Regions from separate parts of the Homo sapiens genome. Here region 2 is linked to region 1. Evidence: fine-mapped expression QTL. Tissue or cell type: whole blood. Region 1 holds a variant in brackets; the other region holds the start of a gene. All regions are shown on one strand. Distances are between the middles of the regions.

Region 1 (9,995 bases):
AGCGGTGTTGCCCATTTTTATTGAAGTATCCTTCTGTCGACCCACTTGGAAAGACTTCCAAGATACACTGCACAGTGAGAAAAACAAGAAGCAGAACAGTGCACAGTGTGCCACCTCTGGCATTACAAAGGAGGAAATGTAAAATGAATTTATAAATGGCCAATAAGCAAATAAAATTTGGTCAACATCACTTATCATTAGGAAAATGGAAATCAAAACCACAGTGAGATACCACCTTACATCTGTTCTGATGGCAGTTCTGAAAAAAAAAAAAAAAAAAAAAACAAAGTGTTGGCGAGGAGAAATTGGAATGCTTGTGCAGTGTTTGTGGGTATATAATATGGCACAACCACTGTGGTCATTTCTCAAAAAATTAATCATAGACTTACCACACGATGCAGCAATTCTACTTCTGGTGTATTCTGAAAAGAACTGAGAGCAGGGGCCCCAGCAGGTATCTGCATGTCTTTGTTCATAGCAGCATTATTCACACTAGCCAAAGGTGTAAACAAGCCAAATGATATGGCTTTCCTCTGTCCGAACACAAATCTCACGTTCAGCTGTAATTCCCAAAGGTCGAAAATAGCCTCCTTGTCCCAGCCACCTGACCTCCCTCTGTAATGAGATGCCGTTCCCCCGACTGCAAGTGACTCAGGCTCCCATGGCACCTGTCCTCCTGCCCCTCCCTCTACCACATCTGTGAGCTCCTGGGAAGCCCTGTGACCTCATACAGAGGAGGAAAGTGCAGACCAGGCTTATGGATGGGTCCTCACGGTGAGCTGGCGCCCAGCAGAAGTGGACGGCGGCTGCCTTAGTGCCCACTTCAGGTGGTCCTGAGGAGTGATGAAGGGAAATCCTTCAGATGGGCAGAACCTCAGGGGTTCTGCAAGGAGGGATGGACTTGGGTCCATTGCATGAACCCAGAGCGGGCCACATGGTCAAGGACTTGAAGAGAATAAAAGAGTAAACTTAAGACAGGGAGGACACATGGATGTTCCTCTGGGGATGGGCACAAAGTGTGAGCTATGCCGTCCCCACCCTTAAGCCCAGAACCTGTGCTGTGGGGATGAGGTTCTTGGTGTTTGGTGGATGGTGTCAGGCAGACTCTGTCCCTCAGAGCTTGTTCAGGGGGTCCAGGTGCAGATGGCCACATGGATAGGGAGGACGGCGACGTACCTTACCACAAGTGGACTGAGTCTCCCAGCACTGGCCTGGCTGCACACTGTACCCAGCCCTGCCCAGTGTAGGCAGAGCCCGGGGCTAAGCCCCTGGAAGGCGTCATTTTACAGGAGGACTACCCGGCCACTGCAGATAGGCTGGCCACACAGGACACGTCCCATCCTGGAGGGGACTGGGCTTTGTCCTCACACGGATACGCACACACTGGGGGTTCCAGTTGGCCTTCCCTGGACCCTGCTCAGTGCTTCTGTGAACAGCGCCTTTCCTGTGGCTCTGGAACCCATGCAGGGTTGCTTCCACTGGGGACACGTGTTAACGCAAAGAATGGGGGGTAATTAACTCACACCCATGGAACCCACTGACCGTCTCAGGTGCCCCTCTATACAGACACAGCTGCTTCTCAGATTGGCGCAATGGCTCATGTGTGGCTTATCAGGGCACCGGGAGGGAGACCGTACCCCACCACCCACAGGAGGGGCCACACATCTTATAAACCAGCAACCAGGCTATCGGGTCACGCGCCCCAGGGCCAGATGCAAAGATCCAGGAAAGACAGGAAGAATAAGCGCGGCTCCCTCCCGTGACTGCACCTGCCAGCCCACTGAGAGAATGCTTGCTCTTTGTCCCCGTGGCCCTGGGCTGCTGTGGATGAGGAATCTCTTCCTAGTTCTGATCTGCAGGAAGCCATGACAGCCCTCCAGCCATCCTGTGCCCCTTGTGCTGCCAAAACAGCAGGCAAAGGAGACGTCACTCTGCAGTCGGGGGAATGGCATCTGATTACAGAGGGAGGTCGGGTGGCTGGGACAAGGAGGCTATTTTCGAAGGCAGGCAACTCATGGCGGTAACATTTCCTTGGCCAGGGCCCTGTTCCATGGAAAACTATAGAAACCCACTAAAGACAAGGCCATCCAAGACTCACTCTCCATAAGAATCAAGATTTGGGTTACACTGCAGGTAACAAATAACATCCAAAGGAGGTTTTGGAGGTGGGAGGACAATGTGGAATGTACTGGAAGAAAGCAGCTCTGAGCACCAGCAGCCCCGCCCCCAGGACCTCAGCAGCTGTATTGGAAGCCATCTCTTCCCCATCTTCCTCTCATTGTGGGCGAAGAACTGGTGCACAGCACAATGGGAGGAGGACATCACTGTCACCATCACACACTGTTACTGTGACAGAGGGAAGGACTGGAATTGTGTGTCGTCTGTACGGAGGACTCTGATTATTTTTTCCCCCTTGAGACAGGGTCTCGCTCTGTCCCCCAGGCTGGAGTGCAGTGGTGCAGTCTTGGCTCACTGCAGCCTTGACCTTCTGGACTCAGCCTTCTCAGTAGCTGGGACCACAGGCGTGCACCACCACACCCGGCTAATTTTTTGTTGTCTTAGTGGAGACTGGATTTCACGGTATTAGCCAGGATGGTCTCAATCTCCTGACCTCATGATCTGCCCGCCTCGGCCTCCCAAAGTACTGGGACTACAGACAGGCACGCACCACCACACCCGGCTAATTTTTTGTATTTTTTGTAGAGAAGCAGTTTCACTATGTTGCCCAGGCTGGTCTCAAACTCCTGGGCTCGAGTGATCCTCCCACCTCAGCTTCCCAAAGTGCTGGCATTACAGGCGTGAGCCACCGAGCCTGTCCTGGACTCTGATTTTCATCTGGACAAAGGGAAAGGGTGGATGCCGAGGGGCAAGGGAGTGAACGGTGCTAGACGTGTTCTGTTTCCTTCTCCAGATTCACTCTCTTCTCCTCTTCCCTTTCCTCTCCTCTGTTCTCTACTGTGAATGGCAGATCTATGGGGGCTGGACCAGTGGAGTCTCCTGCTTCTGTGGCCTCTAGGGGGTTCAGTCAATGGGGAACCTCAACTGGAGACCAGAGTGAGGACATCAGTTTGGAATTTTAGTTCCCCACTTCCCTCCCCAGTATCATTGCGGGCTGGACGCGTTTTTCAGCCTGAGATGGGAGCTCTTGTTAGGCAACCCTCTCTGAATATCTCTCTCTTTCTGTCTCCGGCTCTCTCTCCAGCTCTCTCTGTCTCTTTCTGTCTATGTCTCTCTCTCTCTCTCTCTCTCTGTCTGCAGATTCCAGCAGTGGCTCTTCTCCTCACCCTTTTTGGGCTATGGTGGTAAGAGATACCCAATGGTAACAGCTCTGGGAAAATGCTAACCCATTTTTTTCTGGAGTTCTCTTTAGCCCTTATGTCAATTATCCCACAATAGGCAGATGCTACATAGCAACGTTTGGGTCAGTGACGAATTGCGTATAGAACGGTGGTCTCCTGAGATGACAATAGTGTATTTATGCTGTACCTTTTCTATGTTTAGATGTGTATAGATGCACAAATACTTGCCGTGGTGTTACGATGCCTGCAGTATTCACACCATAACATGCACTGCAGGCTTGTAGCCTAGGAGCAGTCAACTCTACCATCCATCCTGGGTGTGTATTGGGCTGTACCATCTGGGTTGGTGTAAGTGCACTCTACAATGTTCCTTTCGTGATAAAATCACCTAACGACACATTTCTAACGACACGTCCCTGTCGTAAAGCAATGCATGACTATACTAACCTCTCCTGCAGTCGCTCAGATGGGGCCAGCCCCCTGTTTGTGCTAGGGCCCTGGCTGCTAGGCTGGAAGCCTCATACATCTCAGTGCATCTTCCCCTCCCAGGTCATGGTGATGCCCAAATACGTTTGGCTGGAGCACCCTGAAGTCTCTGCTACCATCCAAGCTGGTTTGGAGACATGAACCAGACCAATGAAGGGCAGGCTTTGGATGGCCATTTTCTCATTAGGTTCCTCTCCTCCACCATGCTAGATCCCTGGGCGTCCTGCTGTCCCCTTACATGGAGAAATCCCAGCACTGGGAGAAAGCACAGGGTCTTTATTATCAGACACATGCAGCCACTCCTCCAGTGTCCCCTCTCCCACAGGGCAAGTCCGGCTGCTCCAGGCTCTCCCCAGTGTTGCTATTAGGTGAGTAGATATGAATGATTATGTGTGGGGAAGATGATTCATGGACAGGATGGGGAAATAATCTGGTGTCCAAGGCCATTAGGTTACAAGCACAAGGGACGGTTGAGTGTGGTGGTGAGCAGCGGTGAAGAATCGTGGGGGAAATG[G/A]AGTTAGCAGGAAGGGCAAACCGCTCCCCACCACAGCGCTGGGGCCAGTGCCAGCCCCACCCCCCAAGTGAGACACTCCAGGCCCCCAGCCCCACCTCCCTCATGCTGAGAGGCAGGAGGCGGCTCATCACCCTTCTCACACACAGAGAAGATCCCAATTTGTCTGGTGTGGTTCAACAAGGAGCTGGAAGGTTGGGCCACACAGCCCTGAATGCTCATTCTGGTGGTCAGCCCACCTAGAGGGAGAAGACCAAGTCAGAAAGGACACAGAGTACAGCCCAGCCAAATTCATAAACCCAGGAGTCCAGGCCCCAGACCCTCCTCCCTCAAACGCAGGAGCTCAGACCCCCAGCCCCTCCTACCTCAGACCCAGGAGTCCAGGCCCCCAGCCCCTTCTCCCTCAGTCCCAGGAGCCCAGGACACCAGCGCCTTCATCCTTGGGGCCCTGCTTGCAGCACTCACCTCCTGAGAGATGAATGTACCCATCATAACAATGAGTGGCGCCCCTGGGGCAGGTCATTCGGGGGGAGCCACTTGAACAGGTTCCAAGGGGCTGCACACAGGTAGGACACTGCCGGTCTCCTGGGACAGGGGCAGCTGGGGAGCAGAGGGAAGGTGGGGGTACATGACTTTGTGCTCAGAGCAGCTGCCCACCTTGGGCCAGAGTCTCTGTGTGTCTGGGCCTCATTTCTCCACGGCCCTGGATCCCATACCTTGAGGAGGGAGGGAGTTCAGCAGAACGCTGCTGCTGCTGGCACTATTGCACAGGTCCGAGGAGCAGAAGTGGGTATAGGAGGCCACAAGCACCCCAGGAGGGGCTGAGTGGATGGTGGTCTTCTGGGAATTTTGAGCCCCAACAGCGCTGCAGCTTTAGGTCGCCACCAGGGTTGATGTGAGTCCTGAGGGTGAGAGGGAAAGCTGGGCTGGGGACTGGGCAGCTCCCAGGGCAGCAGGGGCTCCAGAGCTGGACTCCCTGCCCTTCACAATACCCCCCAGGCAGAGGGTGAATGCCCTGATCACAACTGCTGGGTCATGTTTAGTGTGGGGCAAAGACGGAGGCTGGGGCCTGGGTCCTGCCCGAAGCTCTGCCTCCTCCCAGTTCTCGCTCAAACGTCACCTTCTCCATGAGTCTCCCCTGAGCACTGAGCTTAAAATTGCAGCCTTCCCCTCACTTTTCCTATCTCCTTTTCCTTGCCAGATTTCTCTCCAGAGCTGGGATCTCCATTCCCCATACTTTGCTGCTTTTTGTTTGTTTGTTTCCTGTTTCTCAAGGCATATAAAGCTGCAGGAATACAGATGGGATTGGATCTGCGGCACCTAAAACAAATGCTGGATAAACATTTCCAGAATGTATGAAGCCACTGAGAGTCCTCGGTGTTGGCACGGTTCTCCACCCTGGGCAGGGATTACCGCATACGTGGTCACCCCTCCCCAGAAAGGCAGACACTGTCATTCCCACTGCTTCACCCCCAGTTTTCATAAGGGGAACCCAAGATGCAGAGAGAAGAAGAGTCGGATTGAAAATTGCAGATGTGAAGGGAGCTGAGCAGGAAATTCAGGGGAAAGAATCCAGTGGGGTGGAGGGAGCTGCCAGGGACTTGGGACAGGTGTTCGTCTTCTACCTCAGTCCACGTACCTACATCTATGAGCAGCAGCATCTCCTGACACACCTGCCCCACCTCGCACGTCTCGGTATTAGATGTGGCCCAATCAGTGGGTTCTTTACTCAAGTTTTCCTGCTTCTTCAAGGTGGTCCCCCGATGACAGGTCAGAACATCTGGGGAGAGGAAACCCAGGGTCTGTGTAAGCCAGGAACCCACCATGTCTGTCCCTCCACGTCCTGGGCTAGGGAAGGTGATCATGCTCTTGAGTCACACTCCAGGTGACCTGGCCACGGAGTCCCTCAACCACGGATTCAGAAGGGACTTGGGAGTCCAAACCCCACCCCCATTGTTCCCTGTTTCTGCTTGAACACCCGCAGGGACGTCCTCTCACAGCCCTGTGAGAACAGCCATTCCTTGCTTCAGCTGTGAGAGCAATGGAAGCTCTTCCTGAGCCTCTGCCCATCTCTGCTTCCCCATCTGAGCTTTAAGGTCCTCATTTCAATAATAAGGAAGGCAGCCTGAGACCTTTCTCATACCTTTCAGTTGCAAAGCCCTATGTTCCAAACAAGATGCGAAGGGCCAGGGTGGGCTGAGCACTGCCGCTGAGCACTGCCTCTGCACCTGGCTGACCTCATTGCTTCCCACAGATCCACCCATCTAAGGTTCCAGGGAACACAGCTTATCTGGGATGCCTCATTTCCCCACAGCACCCCAGCAGTAGGTGGTGTGATCACAATCAACACCCTCATTTGCAACAAGGGAAACAGAGGCAGGATTGCTCAGTAGCTGCCCATGCCACACAGCTTGTGAGTGGCAGAGGTAGGCTGGGAACCCAGGGACTCTGGACCCTCAGGGTCGGGGTTGGGAGCAGGAGGGAGACAGGTACTGAAGACCATCCTCGGCTACCTTGGCCCCGAGGCCCTCAAGGCTCTAGTGTGAAACCACAGCCCCTGGCCTCCCCTCACGGCCATCACAGAGCAGGGGGGATCGGTCCCATGATGCAGGGACTCTTAGACTGAGCCCCCAGCTTCCACCAACACATGCGACCTGCAGAACCGATGCCACCCTGGAGGGCTGCTCATTTGCATACTTCACAGATGACAAAATCAAAATCATGGCTCCTGCTCCCTTCTCCCACCCTTCTCTCCCCACTCCCATCTCCCCTACTTACACCCGTGGCGGCTCGTTTCTGCCAGTCTAGCTGAACACATTGGTGTTGTCCTTGACCACGCTCTTTCTCTCCCACATTGTGTTCCTCAAGTAATCCTACTGGCTTGAGCTGCAGAAAATCTTCAAAACCCAACCCCACGTCACCACCTCTGCTGCCTCCAAGCCCCCCGCTTCACTCCCACCTGACTCCTGGGGCAATCCCTGCACCCGCCTGTCACTGTTCCTCTCGCTCCATTCTCCACCCAGCAGGCAGAGGGAGGCTAGGTAAACCTAAGTCAGTTCATGTCACTCCTCTGCTCCGAAGACTCCAGGAGGTCCCCATTCTGGAGAATAAAATTCTAAGCCCTTCCAATGGCCCGGGAGGCCTGATAAGACGCGGCCGCCTCCCTGCTCCCTCCATCACTCTGCTCCGCACAGGTGTTTCTGGCAGGCACTCACCCACATCATGGTCTTTGCATCTGCTTCCGTCCCATGTCTGCAACCATCCCCTCCTCTTCCCCAAATCCAGGGAAAGAGGCTCCATGAGATATGGAGACTTTTGATCCTCGTGTGAAGCTGAGGCTGGAAAGCTGTTTCGGCGGCAGAGCTGGGCCTGGGACCCACGTGTCCCTGATTCAGACGTGGGCTCTTCCCTGCTCTCTCACTGGGACCGCTGCCCAGCTCCTCTAGGGGCAGCCAGGGCCTTATCTGCCCGGGCCCCTTGGTTCTTCACAAGGGGCTGCTGCCATGGCCCCTTTTAGTAACCTGCATCCTTGCACCCAGCCCTCCCACTGCTGCGGCTTCTTATAAGCGGTTCCATCACCCTGAAGCCTCTTCTCTCCTGCACTTGGTCCCCAACGTCTTGTTGTTCCCCCAGTTTCTGATGCCTGGTCTTGTGATGCTCACTGTCTGCTAAACTGCTGAACTGCACTTCACCAGGGAGGCAAAACAGCCTGCAAGATCTGGCTCCAGTGTTGAAAGCAGAAGATGAATCTCTATGAACAGCACTGATTGGTGCATAGTCGCTGTGTTTTATGTGGTGCGTTTGTGTAGTGTGTGCACATGCGTGATGTGTGCAGGTATGTGTGCTGTGTGTGAGTGCGTAGTATACATGTGGGGGGTGTGGTTGTATGGGGTGTGTGGTGTGTTCATGGTATGTTTGTGTGGTGCGTGCATGTGTAGACATACTGTGTGTGATATATGTGGTATGTGTTTGTTTTGTGTGTTTGGTGTGGTGTGTGTTCTGTGTATCTGTGTTTTGCTTGCATGTGGTGTGTGTGGCATGCCAGATGTGTTGTGTGTATTGTGTGTTGTGTGTGGTATGTATTGCATGTCTGATATGTTGAGAGGGAGAGTGTGTGTGGTACCTGACGTGTAGTATGTGGCATACACACTACATGTACACGTAGTAATTGTGCACTCGTGTGATGCATTTGTGTGTGTTGTGCATATTGTGTGCTCTGTGTGTGATTTGTGTTCCATAGGTGGTATGTCAGGGGTATGGGGGAGTGTGTGTGTGGTATGTGATGTGTGGTGTGTATGTGTCATGGTGTGACGCATTCGTGTCTGCTGTGCTTATTGTGGGCTGTGTGTGTGGCATGTGTTGCGTCTGATTTGTTTCTGAAATACCTTCTGGGTTATCAGTGTCATCTGGTCCCAGAGACCAGGGCCAGATCCTTAACAGCAGCATCAGTCAAAAGGAAAGATAAATGGCTCAGACCCTGCCCTCCCTGCTCCACAATCTTCCATGGCTCCCCTGCCTTCAGGAGAGGGTCCACCCCTCAGCCTGGGTTTTCAGGTACTTGAGCGACCACCAGGTTCCCCACTTAACTCTTCCTCCCCCACCAGTATCCATTCTGAAGGCATGCCAGTTCATTTCCTCCTCAGCCTCACACCTGCTGTGCCTTTGGCTTGGAGCAGCTCCCTCTTCGACCCCACACCCACCTTGTCCACCTGGAAAACTTCGAATCACCCCCAATCCCAGCTGTACCCCCTCATCTTGATGAGTCCTTCTCAGGTGGAGTGAGGGACTCTTCTTGAAAACAGCAGGCTCACTCCCACCTCCAGGCCTATGCAGCTGCTACACACTGTTCCCTCTGCCACCAATGTCCTCTTCCTCTTCTACCAATAAGCTGTAGGTCATCTTTAACACACGGTTCACAGGCCACCTCCTCTGTAAAGCCCTCCTTGACTCTCTACCCCAACAACATCAGTATTTTCCTCCTCTGAGCTGCCCCAGGCCCCACATCCCCGTTTGCCACAGCCCTGATCACCTCAAGCTGTGACCATCTGTGTCTGTAGCACCTCCCCCTCCTAGTCCTGGAGGCCCTTCAGGTAGAAACAGGGTCTGACTCATGAGGGAGCTTTGCTCAAGTGAGCCCTGCATGTCCTCACTTGAGCAAACACCTCCTGGTACCCTTCCTGAGCCGTCTCCTGAGCTACCCAAGGCTGGAAACCCTGGTGCCAGTGGTACCAAGCCCCTAGCCTCAGGCTCCCAGCCTAGCTAGGGAGAAACAGCCAAATACACAGAGGAATGTGTGCAGAGCTCACACAACTCTCTCTTCTAAGCTCTAAGGGTTAGCGTGATGTGGGCAGACAAGGAAACTGAGGCAGGGGCAGGGAAGACTTTGCTTCTAGGAGGGAAGCTGGGATTCCTATAAGACCCCCACCTCCCCACCATGGCTTCCTGTTGCTTTGGAGCCCTTCTTATGGAGACATTCCCTGGCACTCTCTTCCATGGCAGCACCTAAATGGGTAAGTGGGGACCCTCTCAGTGTCCTCCTTTAACTCTTGCTTTCTCTGTCACACCCAAAGTCCCCTTGATTTTCTCTCTGATGTTCTCTCCTGTGCAGGCAAGGCTGCTGGGGCACTCCAGCACCATGAGCGGGGCGGGGGCTGATACGGGTGGGAGAGAGGCTACGGTGGCCTAGGGAAGTGGGAGAC
Region 2 (9,995 bases), 40 kb after region 1:
TGCCCTCTCCCAGAAGGGCCTGCACCAGAGACCTTGGTCTTTGTTCTTTTTGGAGAGATCTGTGCAGATCGAGGTCACTCCAGCCCTGGATTCAGGGAGGGCTGCACTATCAGAGAAAGACAGCTTCAGCGAGGCCTCACAGTGAGTCAGACCAGACTCTTCCCATCCCCAAGATCCCTGGACTATGGGGCATCATCCTGGGATCCCTAAGGTCACATGGGAAACTTCTCAAGCACCGATGCTGCCATCTGATACTGTGGCCTGATCCCACCCCTGGACACCTGGAAATTCTCATGAACCCGTGGAGGCCTGGTGCTACCTGAAACTGTGACCTCATTCTACTTCCAACTCACAAGTTGAAGCGTAGATTTACATGCAGTCAAATCAATAATTAGATTAATTGGCTGACTAAAGGAAAAACTTCAGACACGTTAAATTTAACACAGTTTAATTGAGTAATGAATGATGCATTAATCAGGTAGCCCCCAGACCCAGAGTAGGTTCAGAGAAACTTCAGGGTGTTCCGTCCATAAATGGTTGGATAACATCTACCGCAGAAGAAAGTGATGTAGAAGAAACTAAGGAAGGCACTGAAATAGCTGGACTGCTAACAGTTGGGTGCTTGCCTTATTTGAACCAGGTTTGAACAGTTAGTTGGGTACCTGTGATTGGCTGAGACTCAGCTATTTTTACTATAGCAGGTTACAGACTGTTTACACATCAAGTTAGGTTACAGTTCACTATGTATGGAGAAACCATTAGACCAAACTTAAAGTAGTAGGGAGGCAGCTTTAGACCTAACAATGTTAACAGGCCAAACATTTCAATTAAGGGGTACAGATTGGTCAAATTGCATAAAAAAGCAATACCCATATATACTGTCTACAAGGGAAATATTTTACATATAGGGAAAAGCATTATTGAAAGTGTGAGTATTGAAAAAGATATACCATGCAAACAGTAAGCACAAGAAAGTTGAAGTACTAGTAAAAAAAAAAAAAGAAAGAAAGAAAATAGAATTCAAAACAGAAGGTAAAAGAGACTGAAGCAGGAGAATTGCTTGAACCTGGGAGGCGAAGGTTGCAGTGAGCCAAGATTGCACCATTGCACTCCAGCTCTGGGTGACAGAGCAAGACTCCATCTCTGTGGAAAAAAAAGAAAAGGAGAAACAAATGTGAGTGTAAGCAAGGCGAGTGTTTCCTCTATGATTAGTAATTAGCAGTCTTCAAAAAGACATTCTGTGGCTTGGGGTTTAATAGTAAAATAATTAGCTGGCATGGTGACATGTTCCTGTACTCCCACCCAAGAGGCTGAAGTGGGAGGATTGTTTGAGCCCAGGAGTTTGAGGCTGCAGTGAGCTGTGATTGCACCACTGTACTCCAGCCTGGACAAGATTGAGAGAGATCCTGTCTCAAAAAAAAAATAAGTAAAACTGGTGGTTTAACCTCAAGGCTTACAACTCATTGTTTTGTAAGGTTTGCAGAAGATCTCAATCCTTTACAAGTAGGAAGGAAAAGCCTGTTGGTTTGAGAGGGAACTGGGTGTGTGCATAGGCCTGTTGGTAGGAGAACTGGAGCACTCAAAAAGGGAGCTGCACGATGCTTATGCCGGCTTCACTGAGGGCTGTGGGCATTGGAGGAATGGGCTTTGAAGGACAATTAGGAGTTTGTGGGGTAAACAAATGCATGGGGGAAGCGGATTAGGGAGAGGTCTCCCATGCAGAGGGACCAGTGTGAGCAAAGCCAAAGAGGCTGGAAGAGACTAGGGATGTCCTGGGAATAGATATTAGACAGGGAATGATAAGGGTGAGGCATGGGGGCTGGTCTCCAAGACCAGTGTGGGAGGTTGGAATTTTCCCCCAGGAATACAGGAAGCATGGAAAAAATTCTGAGGATGGAATACGGAGGGCCTGAGGTATGTGGTGGCTCACTGTTGTGTGTTTCTCATTTCTGGATCTAAGAGACATTCTTTAATCCAGCAAATGTTTACTTACCTACACTGTAATCATATGCTGAGTACACAGAGATGGATCAGACACAGCTGGAAGGAACCAGATACACACATGCCCATGCACACATGCACACTGACATGTACACCGAGACACACACATCAGACACACATTCACACACAGCACACAGATACACACAGACATACATATATACAGACATGTGCACACACAAACATGCATGCACTCACAGTCACACATGAACACACATAGCCAATTATACTATAAAGTACAAAAAAAAAATTTTTTTTTGAGACAGGGTCTTGCTCTGTCACCAGAGCAAAAGCTGGAGTACAGTGGCGTTATCTCGGCTCACTGCAACTGCAACCTCCACCTCCTGGGCTCCAGCGATCCTCCCACCTCAGCCTCCCAAAGTGTTGGGATTACAGGCATGAGCCATGGCACCCAGCCTAGAATCTTACTTGAGGTAAAATGAGAATCCACTGGAAGGTTTTGGTTTTTTTGAAACAGAGTCTTGCTCTGTCACCCAGGCTGCAGTGCAGTAGCACAATCTTGACTCACTGCAGCCTCCACCTCCCAGGTTCAAATGATTCTCTCGCTGCAGCATCCAGAGTAGCTGGGATTACAGGGGCGCACCACCACGCCCAGCTAATTTTTTCATTTTTAGTGGAGACAGGGTTTCACCATGTTGGCCAGGCTGGTCTCGAACTCCTGATCTCAGGTGATCCACCACCTCGGCCTCCCAAAGTGCTGGGATTACAGGCCTGAGCCACCGTGCCTGGCCCATTAGAAAGTTTTAAACAGGAGTAATGTGGTGTGGCTTGCAATTAAGAGATCGCTCTGGTGCCAGGTGGGAAATAGCCACATGGGCAAGGGCAGGGCGTACTGCAATAATCCAGTGACCAATGGTGGTGTCACAAGTGCTTATATAAAAAGATGCCTTCACTGTATATTAGCCATTGAGCTTTTTTCTTTTTTACAAACGTTCCATGGATTCATAAACTATTTGCCAACCATTGCTCTAGACTAACCTCCTCATTTTCTTTTTTTTCTTTTTTTTCTTTTTTTTTGAGACCAAGACCAAGTTTTGCTCTTGTTGCCCAGGCTGGAGTGCAATGGTGCAGTCTCAGCTCACTGCAACCTCCGCCTCCCAGGTTCAAGTGATTCTCCTGCCTCAGCCTCCCAAGTAGCTGGGATTACAGGCGCGTGCCACCAGGCCTGGCTAATTTTTGTATTTTTAGCAGAGACAGGGTTTCACCGTGTTGGTGAAGGTCAGGCTGGTCTCAAACTCCTGACCTCAGGTGAACCACCCACCTTGGCCTCCCAAAGTGCTGGGATTATGGGCTTGAGCCACTGCACCCAGCCTAACCTCTTCATTTTCTAGATGAGGACACTGAAGCTTGGAGAGGAACAGAAATTGGCTCAGGCTAAGGAAGATCTGTCAATCTCTCTTGCACCAAAAAGGCAAAGCCACCTTTCTCAAGGGGCTGTGTATTGGGGTGTTCTTGCACTGCTATAAAGAAATACCTGAGACTAGAAGTAATTTATAAGAAAAGAGGTTTGATTGGCTCAAGGTTCTGCAGCTGTACAGGAAGCGTGGTGCCAGCATCTCCTTCTGGGGAGGCCTCAGAGAGCTTTTACTTATGGCAAAAGGATGCAGGCCAGAGAAGGGGAGCGAGAGAGAGTAAGAAGGGGAGGTGCCACACACTTAAACAACCAGATCTGGCAAGGACTCACTCATCATTGCAAGGACAGCACCAAGTCATGAAGGATCTGCCCCCATAACCCAAACACCTTCCACCAGGTCGCATCTCCAACACTGGGAATTACATTTCAACATGAGATTTGGGCGGGGGACAAATATCCAAACTATGTCACGGAGCAAGAGGAGGTCCCTGGAGCTGTTGAAGCAGAAATGGGGTGAAGAATAGAGGTGGAGGGTGCTTAGGCTTCCAAGGTCTCTTCTAGGTGTGAGATGGAGGGATTCTGCGACCAAGTCACCTGGAGAGTGACTCAACAAGGTGACTGCTTTCCCAAGCACGAGCCCTCGGGGGACAGACGGGGGCTGAAAACTGGCACACATTCTTCCTGGATCCTTTGACATGTGATCATTCAAAGATAACAGTTCAAAGATAACAAAGGGATTGAAGCTTTACCAATCCCTTTCTTATTGTGGCATTTTCTCTATTAAAAATAAATACTCATTTATACTATAACTTACAGAATCAGTACCAATTCTGAAAGTATACAAAGCGTTGCCTTACTTTAAGGAAGGAGACCACTACTACTCCTGCTGCCCTCCTCCCCCGACCTTGCCTAGTTCACAAGACAGGAGGAAAGAGAGAAAGCAAAAAGTTGGAAAGAAACAGAAGTAAGATAAATAGCCAGTCAACCTTGGCACCACCACCCAGCCCTAGGAGTTAAAAAAAGTAATAATAATAACAGCAACCCCTGACCTAAACTACTTGTGTTATCTGTAAGTTCCAGACATTATATGAAAAAGCATTGCAAAACTTTCTGTTCTGTTACCTGATGCATGTAGCCCCCAGTCACGTTTCCCACGCTTGCTCGATTTATCACGACCCTTTCATGTGGACCCCTCGAAGTTGTAAGCCTTTAAAAAGGCCAAGAATTGGCCAGGCGTGGTGGCTCATGCCTGTAATCCCAGCACTTTGGGGGGCGGGCGGATCACGAGGTCAGGAGATCGAGACCATCCTGGCTAACACAGTGAAACCCCATCTCTACTAAAAATACAAAAAAATTAGCCGGGTGTGGTGGTGGGTGACTGTAGTCCCAGCTACTCGGGAGGCGGAGGCAGGAGAATGGCATGAAGTCGGGAGGCAGAGCTTGCAGTGAGCCGAGATTGCACCACTGCACTCCAGCCTGGGCAACAGAGGGAGACTCCAAAAAAAAAAAAAAAGGCCAAGAATTTATTTTTCAGGGAGCTCGGCTCTTAAGACGCAAGTCTGCTGAGGCTCCCGGCCAAATAAACCTCTTCCTTCTTTAATCCAGTATCTGAGGAGTTTTGTCTGCAGCTCATCCTGCTACAACTTCATGTCACACCTGGAAAGCTTACATAGGCCAGGGGTGGTGGCTCACGTCTGTAATCCCAGTACTCTGGGAGGCCGAGGTGGGCAGATCACCTGAGGTTAGGAGTTCAAGACCAGCCTGGTCAACACGGCGAAACCCCGTCTCTACTAAAAATACAAAAATTAGCCAGGTGTGGTGGCAGGTGCCTGTAATCCTAGCTGCTCAGGGGAGACTGAGGCATGAGAATCGCTTGAACCTGGGAGAGGGAGGTTGCAGTGAGCTGAGATCACGTCACTGCACTCCAGCCTGGGGGATAGAGAGAGGCTCTGTCTCCAAAAAAAAAATACAAAAAATTAGCCAGGCATGGTAGCTTATGCCTGTAATCCCAGCTACCTGGGAGGCTGTGGTAGGAGAATCACTTGAACCCAGGAGGAGGAGGTTGCAGGGAGCCAAGATTGTGCCATTGCACTCCAGCCTGGGCAAAAAGAGCAAAAGTCTGTCAAAAAGGGAAGGGAAGGGGAGGGGAAGGGAGGGGAGGGGAGGGAAGGGAAGGTTACATAGATGTGAAAGTGAACTGCCAGCCATGAGCAACAAATCCGAGTGACATGTCTTCTTCATGGTCCTGACACGGACGCGTGGGTTCGATCTGACAGCAGCCTGTGCCATCATAGCTACTGCTCATGCATGCATTCGGGGTGCCCAAAGTGATGCTGAGGGGGGCATTCCTAGATTCAACCCTCCAGGAGACCATGAGGAGGCTGGTGCGATAGCGCAATCAGATGAAGACGCCTGGGCTGCACAGGGGCCACTGCAAGTGAAGACTCAAGAGGCCAAGCTGACTCCCAGAGGCTAGGGCCACTAAGGTGGGTGCCGAGGCAGGGGCCAGGCTGGGAACATGAGAGGCCATTTGGGTAGGGAGATAAGTTCCGTGAGTGAGGGCCAAGGGTCTGACCTCCTAGTGTGGCTGGAGAAGCAGAGACAACAGAGTGCAAAAAGAGAAATGGGCCAGGCGAGGCCATCTGGCAACGCACTGCCCACCCTCCATTGCGTGCCTCTGGCTGCAAAAACAGGCAGGATCTTCCGGCCGGTTTGCCCGCCACTCACCTTCCGAGCATGCGCACCCTCCGAGATTGCCAGGAATTGACTTCTCTGTGGCCAATGAGGTGCCGCGTTCCTCCAGGCTCATCCAATGAACTTATCCGATGCTTTTGCATCCACCAATGGGGTTTCGAGTGCTGTGTGGCCAGGCTGGCCCGGCCTTGCGTCGTAAGAGAATGCCAAGCCCGGGGAGAAGGCGTTCCGGGCCTCAACTTTGGCGTCGTGAGATTCTTGTGAGGCGTCTGCCTGGAAGCCGGCAGCAATTTTGCTTCTTTAAAGAGAAAAAGAAGGCTAGGGACTCAGATTCCTGGATTCTGAGGAAAGAGAAGGCTGGGGACCCAGATCCTGGCTCTGAGGGGAACGAGGGTTGGGGGCCTGGGCTCCCGGGCCTGAGAGGGAGGGGACCAGAATGGTGTGTCCCGCAGGAAAAGGTGGTTGGAACCCAGACTCCTCGATCCCTACATAGGACGGGGCTGGGCTCTCAGAATCCCGGGTTCTGATGAGGCTGGGGCTGGGGCTGGGGGCCGAGATTCTGGGTCCCTGAGAGAATGTAAGGGACCCCTGAGACTGAGGGAGAAGCGGCCTTCAGGGCCACACTCCTGATCCTGAAGTTGGAGGGCACTGGGTGGCCGGGCCTGAGAATTAAAACCATGAAAAACTGGGGCGTGATAAACCTGTGAACTCGCTCCAGCTCACAAGCCGGTTAGGGACAGAACGACTTTAGAAGTCGTGGTCATATACACCATAAACCCCACTGTGAGGCCGGGCATCAGGGCTCACTCCTGGAATCCCAGCACTATGGGGGGACGAGGCGGGCAGATCACCTGAGATCAGGAGTTCGAGACCAGCCTGACCAACATGGTGAAACGTCATCTCTACTAAAAATACAAAAAATTCACTGGGTGTGGTGGCGGGCACCTGTAATCCCGGCTACTCGGGAGGCTGAGGCAGGAGAATTGCTTGAACCTGATAGGCAGAGGCAGTGAGCCGAGATTGCGCCACTGCACTCCAGCCTGGGCGACAGTGCAAGACTCCGTCTCAAAAAAAAAAAAAATGCAGATTAAAACACCCCACCCTGAAGTCAGTACTTGCCAGGACCTAGATTTGATCTCATGCACTCTGGCTGAAAAGTTAATTGCCTTCTCTCCATCAAATTCACAGATCCAGACCAGCTCCTCCCAGACCTCTCCAGAAGAAGCCATGGGAACCCCTCGTATCCAGCATTTGCTGATCCTCCTGGTCCTAGGAGCCTCCCTCCTGACCTGTGCGTATGGGGGACATAGGGGAGAGCCGTGTGTCACAGAAGGTGGACTGATGATGAAAAGGGAGCCGCCTTGGCCCATGGAGAAGTGCTTATCCTTTTCTTGTTTTCTCCTCAGCGGGCCTAGAGCTGTATTGTCAAAAGGGTCTGTCCATGACTGTGGAAGCAGATCCAGCCAATATGTTTAACTGGACCACAGAGGAAGTGGAGACTTGTGACAAAGGGGCACTTTGCCAGGAAACCATACTAATAATTAAAGCAGGTGAAATGAGATGGGGCATTTGGGCTGGGTAGGAGGGAGGTTGATTATCTCCATGCCAATGCTTGTTCCCTTCGTCCAGGCCAATTGTGACGGCCACCATCCATTTCCCCTCCTTCCTGTCTCATAACAGGGACTGAGACAGCCATTTTGGCCACGAAGGGCTGCATCCCGGAAGGGGAGGAGGCCATAACAATTGTCCAGCACTCTTCACCTCCCGGCCTGATCGTGACCTCCTACAGTAACTACTGTGAGGATTCCTTCTGTAATGACAAAGACAGCCTGTCTCAGTTTTGGGAGTTCAGTGAGACCACAGGTACCCTGGAAGTGGGGGAGATAGGTACTAAGAGAAACTCCATAAAGAGCTTGTGTATGGCCTCCCTTTGCATTCTGACTTGGCTTAGCCTAAGTGGTCCATACCCCAAAGTACCTCACAGTTCAAGTAATTTTATGTTTCTGAATTGTTCATTGGGATCTAAACACTGCTCAGAGCAGCGAGATACCAGTGAAGCCTGGAGTGTAAACTGGGTTTTGTGTTTATTAAGCAATAAGACAGGCTGGGTGAGGTGGATCGCCTGAGGTCAGGGGTTTGGGACCAGCTTGGCCAACATGGTGAAAACCTGTCTCTACTAAAAATACAAAAATTAGCTTAGCCTGGTGGCGCACACCTGTAATCCCAGATACTCGGGAAGCTGAGGCAGGAGAATTGCTTGAACCCAGGAGGCAGAGGTTGCAGTGAGCCAATATCACACCACTGCACTTCAGCCTGGGACAGAGAGCAAGACTCCATCAAAAAAAAAAAAAAAAAAAGCAATAAGACATCAGTGTAGGTTTCCGAACAGGGTGGTATTATCAGTCTAACAAGTATTGGTTTCCCACTGCTGCACGAGAACGGCCCAGTTCCCCAATTTACAAGGCCTGTAGTAACTTGGCCCTTCCTGTCTTTTCAGCTTCATTTCCCTCTCTTCCCTCTCTCATTTACTGTGTGCTAACTGGGGCTAATACTCAAAATGCTTAACAATGTAGATGGCACTGGCCAATCAAAATGGATTCTGGCCATAAAAAACAAAAACAAAAACAAAAAAAACAGATCAAAGAAACAGCTGGGCCTACAAGCTGAATATGAGTCGTGCAACTTCTCACAATTCCCTGAATCCACCAAGCTGGCTCACACCACCTGACCTTTGTCCTTGCTGTTTCCTTTACTACCCTCCCCACCCCATTTTCACATAGCTAACCCCTGTTCATCCTCCATGTCAATTCAGGTATCAGCTCTTTGAAAATATTTGCCAAATTCTTTTAGGTAGTTGGGTATTCCTCCATTCCTTTGTCATTATACCTTGAACACAGCAGCTACTGAATTGATTACTTACATGTCTTTCTCCTAGGCAGAGATGCCAGGTGACAGGAACTATGTCCTTTTCATCTCTGTATCTTCACACCTCAGCAGAGTTTGGAAGTCAGATCGATGGAGATTTCACAGCAGAGAACACCAGCTGGGGAAGGATGGGGAGGCTGAAGTAATGGGCCTTGATTAGAGTGGCATCTGCAGGAAAATCTTGGGGAAGAGAAGGCAGCAAGGAGCAACATCTCTGGAGGCAGGACCTGCCCTTAACTGTCTCTCTCATTTCCCTCCAGCTTCCACTGTGTCAACAACCCTCCATTGTCCAACCTGTGTGGCTTTGGGGACCTGTTTCAGTGCTCCTTCTCTTCCCTGTCCCAATGGTACAACTCGATGCTATCAAGGAAAACTTGAGATCACTGGAGGTAAACTGAAATGAACATCTGATAGTTTCAGAGGCTGGAAAACCATTTGAGTGGCTCCCCAGAGATTCTGACACTGAGCTCTCCAGGGATGAGGGGGGACTGGATTCTCCTCTGATGTCCTAAAACATCTCTGTCTCTCCCGATCCTTCCTTGTTCTATAGGTGGCATTGAGTCGTCTGTGGAGGTCAAAGGCTGTACAGCCATGATTGGCTGCAGGCTGATGTCTGGAATCTTAGCAGTAGGACCCATGTTTGTGAGGGAAGCGTGCCCACATCAGCTGCTCACTCAACCTCGAAAGACTGAAAATGGGGCCACCTGTCTTCCCATTCCTGTTTGGGGGTTACAGCTACTGCTGCCATTGCTGCTGCCATCATTTATTCACTTTTCCTAAGAAGGCACTTCTGGGCCTGGGTCTGAGGACATCTTTTTTGACTGGGAGCCTTCTTACTGTTGAGGTTCAACAAGCTGAGGAGTAGATGGGAATTTGAGGGAGAATACAGAGATACTATGAACGTATTTGACATTTTTAATACAATTTCTGCTATAATTTTTGTATGCAGTAGGCGTTACTAATAAACATTTCTGCTGTGATTTGTGTATGTTTCAACACTAGA

What was found. PIP is the estimated chance that this variant, and not a neighbour inherited with it, causes the effect.
Region 2: it holds the start of TEX101, and the variant in region 1 is fine-mapped to the expression of TEX101 in whole blood (INTERVAL, PIP 0.99).

The regions. Positions count from the first base shown.
Region 1 is chr19:43,368,440-43,378,434 of GRCh38, forward strand. It overlaps the pseudogene CD177P1. Among named protein-coding and RNA genes, the nearest start is that of CD177, 20 kb to the left of the region's middle. The variant G/A (reference allele first, on the strand shown) is at 4,300.
Region 2 is chr19:43,408,626-43,418,620 of GRCh38, forward strand. It overlaps TEX101 (testis expressed 101), which reads left to right and starts at 6,265. Exons shown (of 6, transcript NM_001130011.3): 1 at 6,265-6,413; 2 at 7,256-7,358; 3 at 7,474-7,617; 4 at 7,748-7,930; 5 at 9,253-9,381; 6 at 9,543-9,972. The coding sequence starts at 7,295. The coding sequence ends at 9,772. RefSeq lists a silencer at 4,466-4,652.